Homo sapiens: one gene and its partner. The protein of the gene in region 1 interacts with the protein of each later gene in a pairwise test. Each region holds a gene or a part of one and is shown on either strand. Other genes may lie near its edges.

What was found. Proteins that work in one complex are often made in the same cells at the same time.
Region 2: the proteins of GNE (region 1) and KRTAP13-3 interact in binary tests that used the Homo sapiens proteins (3 or more experiments, as listed by UniProt).

Annotation. Positions count from the first base shown.
Region 1 is NC_000009.12:36,248,426-36,255,460, reverse strand, and holds part of GNE (bifunctional UDP-N-acetylglucosamine 2-epimerase/N-acetylmannosamine kinase), read left to right. Parts: intron 1-6,063; coding exon of another isoform or gene 6,064-6,105; coding exon 6,106-6,269; intron 6,270-7,035. UniProt on the Homo sapiens protein: Bifunctional enzyme that possesses both UDP-N-acetylglucosamine 2-epimerase and N-acetylmannosamine kinase activities, and serves as the initiator of the biosynthetic pathway leading to the production of N-acetylneuraminic acid (NeuAc), a critical precursor in the synthesis of sialic acids.
Region 2 is NC_000021.9:30,424,845-30,430,695, reverse strand, and holds KRTAP13-3 (keratin-associated protein 13-3), read left to right. Parts: upstream 1-4,769; 5' UTR 4,770-4,783; coding exon 4,784-5,302; 3' UTR 5,303-5,316; downstream 5,317-5,851. Other genes in the region: KRTAP13-4 (keratin-associated protein 13-4), read right to left, coding at 1-420. UniProt on the Homo sapiens protein: In the hair cortex, hair keratin intermediate filaments are embedded in an interfilamentous matrix, consisting of hair keratin-associated proteins (KRTAP), which are essential for the formation of a rigid and resistant hair shaft through their extensive disulfide bond cross-linking with abundant cysteine residues of hair keratins.

The sequences.
Region 1 (7,035 bases):
AAGGCCAAGGCAGATGACTTGAGGTCAAGAGTTCGAGAACAGCCTGGTTTAGTTGAAACCGCGTCTCAACTAAAAAAATACAAAAATTAGCCAGGCATGGTGGCGTGCGCCTGTAATCCCAGCTACTTGGGAGGCTGAGGCAGGAGAATTGATTGAACCCGGGAGGTGGAGGTTACAGTGAGCTGAGGTCGCACCACTGCACTCCAGCCTGGGCAACAGAGTGACACTCCGTCTCAAGAAAAAAGAAAAATACTGTGAGGCAAAACAAATCATTCATGGTTTGTCAATTTATATTTATTTTACAAAGAACAGTAAATGTTCCATCTGGCAGTACTAAAATGCCTCGTACTTACCAGTTACTCAAAGGTTATTCTACCTAAACTGAGAGCAAGCTGGCCATATGAGTAAACTGAAAAATAGAACAATGTTACCTAAGGCCAGGTTTATAGACAAGCTTGCCTTCATCTTGAACTCACTGGCAATCTGAGAAACCCAATTATTTTTTTTTGAGATGGAATCTCACTCTTGTTGCCCAGGCTGGAGTGCAGTGGCAGGATCTCGGCTCACTGCAACCTCCGCCTCCCGGGTTCAAGTGATTCTCCTGCCTCAGCCTCCCCAGTAGCTGGGATTACAGGCGCCTGCCACCATGCCTGGCTAATTTTTGTATTTTTAGTAGAGATGGGGTTTTGCCATGTTAGCCAGGCAGGTCTTGAACTCCTGGCCTCAGGTGATCCGCCCGCCTCGTCCTCCCAAAGTGCTGGGATTACAGGCGTGAGCCACTGCGCCCGGCCGAAACTCAATTCTTGAAAGCAGCTTTTTGCATTCTCTCAACTCAAGACTGTCCATTGTAAGTACTGATGAAAAGTGATTGCCTCCTTACAAAAGGAAATTTACTTGCCCCAGGCTGGATTTAAATTTTAATTTTTTTAAAGATAGGGTCTTGCTCAGTCTTTCAGGCTGGAGTGCGGTGGCATGATCATAACTCACTACAGCCTCAAACTCCTGGGCTAAAGTGATCTTCCTGCCTCAGCCTCCCAAATAGCTAGGACCGCAGGTGTGCACAACCACACTCAGCTAATTAAAAAAAATTTGTTTGTAGAGACAGGAGTCTTGCTATGTTGCCCAGGCTGGTCTTGAACTCCTGACTTCAAGGAGTCCTTCTTGCCTCAGCCTCCCAAAGTGCTGGGATTACAGGCATGAGCCACCATGTCCAGCCAGATTTCTTGTTTTTATTTATTTATTTATTTATTTATTTTGAGACAAAGTCTCACTCTTTTGCCCAGGCTGGAGTGCAGTGGTGCGATCTCAGCTCACTGCAACCTCTGCCTCCTGGGTTCAAGCGATTCTTGTGCCTCAGCCTCCCAAGCAGCTGGGATTACAGGCACGCGCTACCATGCCTGGCTAATTTTTCTTTTTCTTTTTTTGAAATGGAGTCTCGATCAGTCTCCCAGGCTGGAATGCAATGGTGTAATCTCGGCTCACTGCAACCTCCGCCTCCCAGGTTCAAGCAACTCTCCTGCCACAGCCTCCTCAGTGCTGGGATTGCAGGTGCACGCCACCACACCCTGCTAAGTTTTGTATTTTTAGTAGAGATGGGGTTTCACCATGTTGGCCAGGCTGGTCTCCAACTCGTGACCTCAGGTGATCCGCCCACCTCAGCCTCCCAAAGTGCTGGGATTACAGGCATGAGCCACTGTGCCCAGCCAAAGTTGAATGTTTTTGCTAAATTTTAGGGCTCTTATAACTCTTTGTATATTTGAAAAGCTGATGGCCAGCAATTTCCAAAATTTTGCACTTTTAGATTTGATATTTCCAATATCTTTAAATGTTCTCATTCTACCATTTGAGTCATAATTAAAAGCATTTTAAAAAGTAAGATTTGTGGCTGGGCGCGGTGGCTCATGCCTGTAATCCTAGCACGTTGGGAGGCCGAGGTGGGTGGATCATGTGAGGTCAGGAGTTTGAGACTGGCCTGGACAACATGGTGAAACCCCGTCTCTGCTAAAAATACAAAAAAATTTGGTGGGTGTGGTGGCGGGCACCTGTAATCCCAGCTACTCAGGAGGCTGAGGCACAAGAATCTCTTGAACTGGGGAGGTGGAAGTTGCAGTGAGCCAAGGTCATGTCACTGCACTCTAGCCTGGGCAACAGAGGGAGACTGTATTTTAAAAAAAAAAAAAAGTAAGCTTTGCCCCAACAGTTTATAGAATATGTTACCAATTTTGTAATATACGTTGTGTATGTGTGTATGTATACACATACATACATCATATATATACACATCATATATATATATATTTAGATAGAGACTTATTCTGTTGCCCAGGTTGGAGTGCAGTGGCACCATCTTGGCTCACCGCAAGCTCCGCCTCATGTGTTCAAGTGATTCTCCTGCCTCAGCCTCCCAAGTAGCTGGGACTATAGGTGTGTGCCACAACACCTGGCTAATTTTTTTTGTATGTTTAGTAGAGATGGGGTTTCACCATGTTGGCCAGGCTGTTCTTGAATTCCTGACCTCTCGTGATCCACCCAGCTCGGCCTCCCAAAGTGTTGGGATTACAGGCGTGAGCCATATATTTATTTATATTATCATAGTTTATCCATGGAAGGACAGATAGGAAACCAGTAACTGCTTCCAGGGAAAAGAACTAGCTAGCTGGGGAACACAGATGAAAAGACTTATTGCTACTTAACCTCTTGTGACTTTTCAATTTTAAACCATGTGAATATACTACCTGATCAAAAATTTAGTTAATTAAAATTATTTTTTAAAACCTCCCCTTAAAAAGGCATTTTACCTTAATTTTATTTTTAAGATTTAACTTCTTTCCTTGAAAAAGCTTTGACTTTTTAAGGTTTTTTAGGTTTCTAGGTAACATTGTTGTATTTTTCACCATTTATTTATATGGCCAGCTTGCTCTCAGTTTAGGTAGAATAACCTTTGAGTAACCTGGTAAATAAGCATTTTAGTACTGCCAGATGGAACATTTACTGTTCTTTGTAAAATAAATACAAATTGACAAACCATGAATGATTTGTTTTGCCTCAGCAAATTAAATATTACCAACAATTTTTTCAGCTCAAATTTGATCACTGGAAGAAGGATTATATACAAGAACACTTACGACAACCATTTTTGGAAGAATATTTTTGTCTCTTTAAAGATTAGATAGTGCGGCCACGTGCGGTGGCTCATGCCTGTAATCCCAGCACTTTGGGAGGCCGAGGCGGGTGGATCATGAGGTCAGGAGTTCGAGACCAGTCTGGCTAGCATGGTGAAACCCCATGTCTACTAAAAATAGAAAAAATTAGCCCAGCATGGTGGCACATGCATGTAATCCCAGCTACTCGGGAGGCTGAGGCAGGAGAATTGCTTGAACCCAGGAGGCGGAGGTCGCAGTGAGCCGAGATTGCACCACTGCACTCCAGCCTGGGTGGCAGAGCAAGACTCTGTCTCAAAAAAAAAAAAAAAAAGATCAGATAGTGCTTGGGTCTTCTGAATATAACTCTCTTGGTGGAATGCCCGTTTCGTTATATTGTAAGTGTTTGCCATTGGGTGAAATTAGCTTTTACTGGGGATTATAAATTCAGAGTGGACCTAATGATGGGACCGTTTGCATGGTCACAGAATTTTAGCCTAAGAGAGTGTTGAGGTACCAACAGCAGAGGGCTACTGATGGAATTTCCAGTGAATTTCAGAGTTTACCCTCATCTAAAGGATGGCACCCCTAGAATTGGAATCCTTACTGAAGTGTCTCTGGATTCCTGATTACAAGTTCTAAATATTGATACACTTACTGAAACATGAACATTGAGATCAGAGTCCATGAGGTGAAATTTTATGTTGATTTAGAGAAGTTTAACATGTTCCAAGTCTGGCTCAGTGGTGTATGCCTGTAGTTCCAGCTACTTAGGAGGCTGAGGTGGGGGGGTTGCTTGAGCCCAGGAGTTCCAGGCTGCAATGAGCTATGATCGTGCTTGTGAATAGCTACTGCACTCTAGCTTGGGCAACATAGCAAGATCCCATCTCCAAAAATGTAAAAACTTTTTAAAAAATTCCATAAAACAAATCTCTTATTCCTTGCCCCTGATTTTACTTTTTGAATGGAGGGTATAGCATGGCAGGGAGGGATGAGCGAGCAGTGGAGCTGAGCAACAGTATATCTGTGAATGGGAGGGCCATAACGCTCAGAGCGAGGCAGCAACTGAGAAACGTGGGGGAGGAGGACCTGAGGTTTGTGTGAAGCCTTTCCAGAAAGGATGACACTTAGATGGAGTTTTGAAGGATGAGTAGAAGACCAGCAAGGAGGAAAGGAAGTTTTAGGAAAAAGTAGGTGGCATCTATAAAGGTATAGATATACGGAGATTCACTAGTTGAACTGGAGGCAGTTTGGTATGGCTGGCACTTTGGCACAGAGAAGGGTAATTTTAGGCAGGGAAGAGATGGTGGAAAGGAAGATCACTTTGAAAGTTTGTAGGAGGCCGGGCGCAATGGCTCTTGCCTGTAATCCCAGCACTTTGGGAGGCCGAGGTGGGTGGATCACTTGAGGCCAGGAGTTCAAGACCAGCCTGGCCAACATGGCAAAACCCCATCTCTACTAAAAATACAAAAATTAGCTGGGCATGGTGGTGGGCACCTATAATCCCAGCTACTCGGGAGGCTGAGGCAGGAGAATTGCTTGAATCTGGGAGGCGGAGGTAGTAGTGAGCCAAGCTCGTGCCACTGCACTCCAACCTGGGCGACAGAGTGAGACTTTGTCTCTAAATAAATAAGTAAGAAAGTTTATAGGAGACAGGCAAACCACTTGACAGCTGTTAAGATCGTCCAGACCTAAAATGAGGGACTGGACTAGGGGAAGTCCTTGTATGGATGAAGAGGAGGAGATAGATTTGAAAGATATTTAGGGGGTGGAATTGACAGCATTTTGGAGATATGGGGTGAAGAACAGAAAAGACAAGGATTTGAAGGCATTTGGATGAATGAAATTGCATAACTCAGAGAACAATTGAGGAGGAACAGCTTCCGAAAAGAAAATGAGTTCAGTTTGGGACACTGACTTTAAGGTGTTTATAGGACATACAGCAGGAGATATCTGATAGGCATTTGGAGTTGTCAGTTTTGTTGGCACTGGTGTGTAGGTACTAATGAGGGCTTGAAGGTCAGGTTTTTATCTTACTCATCTTTCTCCTGCCCAGCATTAATCACAATACCTTGTATTTAGGAAGTGTATAGTGTGAGAGTGAATAGCCTGTGTTCCTTATGAGACATGATCTGGAATGTTGGGGCAGTAATTTTCCCTCTCAAGACCTGTGTTTCCCTTTCTATAAAGTGATGGAGTTGAACTAGATCAGTGGTTCTCAACAACTGATTTTGCAACAACCTACTATGTTGGGCTCATCTGTGAGTTATGGCAAGTAATTTTTAATAATAAAGAGCTGATATTTCCTCACCTTTTAAACAAGAGCTGATTTATATCACTCCTTCTTAATGGCATTCCAGTGTGTTTTCTTGAGTGTGAGAGGATGGGGTGGTGTTACAGTTAGTTTGCTGGAGTTTCTTCTTCTTTTTTTTTTTTTGAGATGGAGTCTCGCTCTGTCACCCAGGCTGGAGTGTGGTGGTGCGATCTCAGCTCACTGCAAGCTCCGCCTCCTGGGTTCACGCCATTCTTCTGCCTCAACCTCCCGAGTAGCTGGGACTACAGGTACCCGCCACCACGCCCAGCTAATTTTTTTTTTTGTATTTTTTAGTAGAGACGGGGTTTCACCACGTTAGCCAGGATGGTCTTGATCTCCTGACCTCGTGATCTGCCCACCTCGGCCTCCCAAAGTGCTGGGATTACAGGCGTAAGCCACCACTCCCAGCCTTGGAGTTTCTTAACTCTGGATATACCAATGGGAGAGTCACACATAAGTGGAGGTGCAAAAAAAGATTAAGAATCACTGTACTAAATAGTGGTTAAGGACTTGAAACTGAAAATTTCTATTTCTGATTTAGAGAAGTTTAAAGTTTAGTTATATCTAGGAGTTATTCTGATTATAAAGTTTTTATTTTGGCAATTTCAGGAACTCTATTTTAAGAACCTCTCAAAACGAAACAAGCAAATCATGGAGAAGAATGGAAATAACCGAAAGCTGCGGGTTTGTGTTGCTACTTGTAACCGTGCAGATTATTCTAAACTTGCCCCGATCATGTTTGGCATTAAAACCGAACCTGAGTTCTTTGAACTTGATGTTGTGGTACTTGGCTCTCACCTGATAGATGACTATGGGTAAGATGAAAGCATTTTCTTATTCTTCATTGCAACAGTGTGCTAGAAGGAGCTTGGGTTTTGTAGCCATATGGGCCCAGCTTCAAATTCCTGTTCTGCTGCTTAGTTTTTATGTGGCCTTAGAGTAGTCACTTAGCATCTCTGAGCCTCAGTTTCCTCATTATATAATGTAGTGAAAACTTATATTGTAAATTATTGTGAGGAATGGAGATCATGATATAGAGCATCCATCACAATGATGCCGCTTAGTAGATGATTGATAAATGGTAGCTATAAATAATATTACTGTTTGTTATTAGTTGTTACATTCAAACAAATGCCACTTATAAATACATATTGTATGAGTATAATAATGTGATTCCATGTAAACTGTTTTGTGAGCTGTAATGGCAATCTTTAAAACTGGTTTATAGGCCAACAGCATATAAAGTAGTAGATATGGAACAAGATTTTAAAAATCTAATCTGCAAGGTAAAGTAGAGAGTTACATTACTGTCACCATTGACATTTATTTTGCTGACATTAGGTTTGTTATTAATCACAGGCTACATTTAAAAAGTGAAAGTTGGGCCGGGCACGGTGGCACATGCCTATAATCCCAGCACTCTGGGGGGCTGAGGTGGGTGGATCACCTGAGGTCAGGAATTTGAGACCAGCCTGGCCAACATGGTGAAACCCTATCTCTACGAAAAATACAAAAAAAAAAAAAATTAGCCAGTTGTGGTGGCGCATGCCCGTAGTCCTAGCTACTCGGGAGGCTGAGGCA
Region 2 (5,851 bases), on another chromosome or scaffold:
TCCAGAAGCCAAGTAGTTTGGGTAGCAGAATCTGGATCCGTAACTCAGGGAAGGAAAACCACAGCCTCCATATTTCAGGAATCTGAAGCCACTGGATCCATTTCCCAGCGAGTAGCAGCACCTAGATCCATAGCCCTGGGAGCGACAGCTGCTGGACCGAAAGCCTAGAGATCCAGAGCAAGTCGTCTGACAGGGACAGCAGAGGATGGAGGTCCTGGGGCGGTAGCAGGATTTCTGGCAGCTGGCGGGCTCCCAGCAGGTCTTCTGACAGTCCCTGTAGAGAGAGGAACGCAGCTGGCAGGTGCTGGGAGAGCAGAGGGCAGTGCTGTAGACCAGGCTGCTGGGGTAGGAGCCTGGGTAGTACAGGTAGCCCCCAAAGGAGCGGGAGGAGAAGTTTCTAGAGCAGCAGTTGTAGGACATGCTGATGAGAGATGGGAGTTCAGCTGAGTGTACCTAAGAAGATTCTGAGTTTTAATGTCGCATCCTGGACAAGGGCATTTATATCCTCTCAGCAATAGGTGTGGTGCCCAACAGGGTCATCCTTTACATATTTGTGATCCCTCATTTACATATGTGTAACTGCGTAATCTTGTCTGTAATTGCATTTGAATAGTTTTCCATGTATTGTATTTATGGGTGCTATAATTTTCGTGTTATAGCACAAAGCCAATGAACTGTACTTATGTCAGAAATGCTATGACTGTTTTATATTAATGTCTAGCTCATCATGACAAGGAAAGCTCTTCCTATTTCTTTGGCACATGCTAACTGCCTCTTTTCCTGTGTATTCACATCTGGCTTTGCTAGTAGATGTTTTCCTCTTAAGAGTGGGGAATGAGATAACGTTAGTTTCTTTCTGGTGCAATTTCCACCTGGATGAGAACCTTTGTGAAAATGATCCATCTTGTCACCATTGATTGCTATACTCCAAAATTACTTTGTGGTGATTTTTTAGGGCGGTAAGAGTAAATTAATACATTAAGTACTACAGTTATAAAGTCTGTCTCATATCCAGTGAAGAAAGATCAAGAACAGGCAAAGCAAAGAGATAGAAAGAAATGGCTAGAAATTGAAAGAAACCTTGCCATTTATTTAAAGACGAGATAACAAAAAGAAGCTCGATTGAAACACAGTCACAGAGAAGATCAATTTGAGGTCATGTCTCTTCAGCCAAAGAGCCCGAATGCTTGTCTGCTGAAGGGAGGAAACAAGTGAAAGAGAAACAAAGAGAAAGCTCAGGAATTTCAGAATTTTTTTTCCTATTGCATTCCAGCTGTCATGTGTCTTGTCTCAATGTCTTTATGAGCAAAAATTTTCAAAATTAGCAAATCTTATGAACTTTGATATATTTATCATCTACTTTTGTAATTATACAGGACTTCTACCTTCTTAGAATGGCTCTAGCTTTCCATATTACTGGCTTTCAGTGTCTTTTTGCCACTTGTAGAACCAGGTACCATCCTACATTTTCCTGTGAAAATGTGAAGTTTCTTTGTTCCCCAGTCCTCTTTTCCTCTGCATGGTATATGAATGTTTCTCTCTTATTTTCTCTCTCTCTTCCTCTGACTTTCTTTCCCTCTATTTTTCTTTCTTTTTTCTGTGCTTAAGTTTGATTTTATCTTTTTTCTTTTTTTTACTTGTTATATTTTATGTTTTGTTCATGTGTTTGTTTGCCTCTGCTGAATTATAGATTCCATGTTGAAAAATAAAAATTGGACAGCTTTGTCGTATTCTTTGAGGATAGCCACTTTGTAAGTTCATTCACAAAATATTCTATGTTGAAATACAAGTAGTTAAATTATATTCAGGACCAAAGAAAGTGTACTGTCATGGTTGATGACATTTTATTTTATAATAAAATATAATAAACTTACAACAATAATGTTAGACATTTTCTCGATTAAATTTTCTCAATTAAAATGTATGGCAATATTGAAAAGTAACTTAATATAGGCCTTCCAGAAGGAAGAATGAAGAAAGAAGCAAATATGGCCAATTCAAATATCTATTCAGTGAGTTACTTTCTATTTTTCAATGGCAGTTGATTTCCCCTAACCTTGTACCTTAGTAAGTAGGTTTGGAAACTATTCCTTCCCCATTTTCTTTTGTTTCAAATGTAACTCTTTAAAATAATCTTGAATACAAAACTTATGAGTTAAATGGAGAGCATGAATTTATTCAGGCAAAACTAAGGGATTTAGTGAATTTGTCTTCAGTTAATCCAGGCTCCTTATTCAAAAATCCTTCTCTGAACCAGTTATTGTGAAAAGAGGTGTTCTTCCCTTCTCTCTGCCTCTAAATCTCTAAAACTTTGTCCACATTAATTTGATAGAAGTTTAAGAAGAACTTGTAAATGCCACAACTTTGGACTCACTTCATCTTGGAGATCATATTATTTGTTCTGTTTAATATGGAGCCTCATCATTGTTGTTTCTTTTTTTGACTGAATTATTTATCAACAATTAAAAATTGAGATCTTTCACATAAAATATATGGCTCAGGGATATACATCAAAAGGCTTCTGATCTTTTGACAGATGATTCTCTTCACTGGGCTATGAATAATGGCTTTGGATATTTGAGATATGTTTTCAACAGAATCTCATCCATAGTTGAAAATTACAACGTTTGGCACCTACCTGCTTCTCTTTTCAAAATAACCAGGCAACTTGTCACTAACATGCTGGAAAATCTTGCTTTCACTAACCATCCAGGTTACAACCTCAATAAGCAAAAGCCAATACTTCTATATAAAGATTGAAAATAGAAAAAAGAGTATAAGCCATATGTAATGTAGTTAAAAAGTGTACCTTGCTTATAATTGGAATCTAAGCAAAAGAAAGATGAGAGGATGGGGCAGAAGCAATATTTGAAGAGAGTACAGTTGGGAATTTACCAATCTTGATAAAAGACATCAACTCACACGTGAAATAATAGGAGAATGGTGTAGATCTAGTCTAACTAAGGTGGAGATGGCTGAAAAAATGAGTTTTAGCAGATATTACCTGGAGACAGTCTGAACATAAGCTCCAAAACTAAACTCAAAAGTTTGTTTATTGTTTCTCTAAATCATTGAACAACTGAAATAATTTTTTTTTTGTTTACCCTGATTGGCATACTCAAGATAAAATGTTCAGTTTAAATTTTTTGCTATCCTTCAAAAAATTGGTTTACTTTTTGTATTAGTCTATTCTCACACTGCTATAAACTACTACCTGTGACTGGGTAATTTATAAAGAGAAGAGGTTTAATTGACTCACAGTTCTGCAGGCTGTACACGAAGCACGGCTGGGGAGGCTTCAGGGAACTTACAATCATGGCAGAAAATGAAGGAGAAGCAGGCAGTCCTACAAGGGAAGCAGTAGAAAGAGTGAAGGGGGAAGTGCTACACATTTTTAAACAACCAGATCTCATGAGAGCTAACTCACTAGCACGAGAACAGCAAGGGGGAAATCCACCCCCATGATCCAATCATCTCCCACCAGGCCTTCCCCAACACTGGGGATTACAATTTGGCCTGAGATTTGGGCAGGGACACAAATCCAAACAGTATCACTTTTTAAAAAGTATAAACAAGATTAAATATTTACAGATTTTCTGCATTTTTTCTCTTTCCAGAGTCTCCCCTGAGAGAGGCTGGGAGAGTTGTAAGATTTGGACATAGGTCTGGCCCAAGTGAAGGAGAAAGAGAAAGAAGTGCTTGAGACCTATGCAGGAGACAGTAGTTCTTTAAGGCCGTTGAGGAAACCCTGAGTCAAAGCTGGCCGTCAATTGTCTTCCAGGAATTCCTATATCCCACTGTGCTCAGTCTTTGCTTGGGAGCAGCCCAGAGAAAGCAAGCCTTCCCCAAAAATGCAGTGTTAACTTTTAGAACACAGCAGGTAGGACCACTGGTTATTTAAGCCTCCTGTAATTTAAGATCCGAGATGAGAATTCTCCAGGCTGCCACACATATGAATGAGAATCTCTTAGGACCATGGGCCTCATATTAGATGCATTGAATCTAAAATTCATTTATTTTTTTCTGTCATTTCAATGGTGTGTGTTTATTTAACACTTTAATTCTCTTCATAAGGCCCCAGAATTGTTTTTCATTTGTGATTGTCTCAGTTCCATCCCTTGCTGTCACCATGTCTCCAAATAATTGTCCAGGTTTCCTTCTGGTCATAGGCATCAATGTTATTCAATTTGTCTTGGCTCATACTTTTCCCTCTACACTGGATGTGAGACACAGTGAGTAACAGTACATAATAGATGAAGGAAACTTTTGTGGAATGAGAAAGGATGGTGACATGTAGGTTTAGTTTTCAGCAGGTTTCTCATTAAGGCCAAAGTTGTGTCTCTAATCCATTGACAAAAAAGACATGTAACTTTATCTCATTTCTCACTGTTTAGGGAAAATTATTGCCCATAACAGCCAATAACAAGACACATGAAAATTATGCTAGGAGGAAAAGGAGGTGCTTTCCTAGACATAATAAAATAAATATTAATACGAAACAGTCATAGCATTTCTGGCATAAGTGCAGTTCATTGGCTTTGTGCTATAACACCAAAATTATAGCACGCATAAATACAACATGTGGAAAAGTATTCAAATGCAATTACAGGCAAGATTGCTGAGCTACACATATGTAAATGAGGGAGCACAAAAATGTGAGGGATGACTCTGCTGTGCACCACACCTATTGCTGAGAGGATATAAATGACACTGTCCAGGATGCCACGTTAAAACTCAGAATCTTCCCAGGTACACTCAGCTGAACTCACATCTTCCCGTCAACATGTCCTACAACTGTTGCTCTAGAAACTTCTCCTCCTGCTCCCACGGGGGTTACTTGCACTACCCAGGCTCCTCCTGTGGCTCTTCCTACCCCAGCAACCTGGTCTACAGCACTGACCTCTGCTCTCCCAGCACCTGCCAGCTGGGTTCCTCTCTCTATAGGGGCTGTCAGGAGACCTGCTGGAGGCCCAACAGCTGTCAGACATTGTGTGTTGAGTCCAGCCCCTGCCACACCTCCTGCTACTACCCCAGGACTCACATGCTCTGCAATTCTTGCCTGACTATGCATGTTGGGTCTCGGGGTTTTGGATCCAATAGCTGCTGCTCCCTGAGCTGTGGATCCAGGAGCTGCTCCTCACTGGGCTGTGGATCCAATGGCTTCAGATATCTGAATTATAGAATCCATACCTCCCCTTCCCAGAGTTATAGATCCAGATTCTGCCATCCAATCTATTTTCCACCTAGAAGGTGGTTCCATTCATCTTGTTATCAGCCATTCTGTAGATCTGGTTTCTACTGACTAATGTGGTGACTGGTAAAACTCATTTGAGAAATGCATATTCTTTAGTAAGGTCATCTGTTAATTTCTTCCTTTGAGAAGTATTCTAATATTATTGATCACCAGGTCTTCCTTACTTTCCAGCCCTCAAAAACTGGGTTGTATGTTAGTTCTGTCAAACTGCAGTTTGGATCAATGAATAATCTATAACTGGATCAATCTGGATCTATAACTCTGGGAAGGGAAGGCATGGATTTTATAATTCAGATATCTGAAGCCATTGGATCAATGAGTGATCCAAACTGCATTATAGATATAATTTATAGTTTTTGTATTTCTTTCCAAAAGAGATAGGAAGTGAAAAAGATTTTATTTTAATAAACTCTTTATTCTTCTGTCCAAATGTGCTGTTAATATTGCTATTTATTAGTAAAGCATTGTCTAGGATGTGCATTGTCATTGCTTCTGGTAATGGGCTTTGCAATGCCCAGATTGTGGGATCTCCACACTAATTTTGGTTGGGCTTTAGATATTTTCCTCCTCTTTAAGCAGGAGTTTCTGGGATTCTCA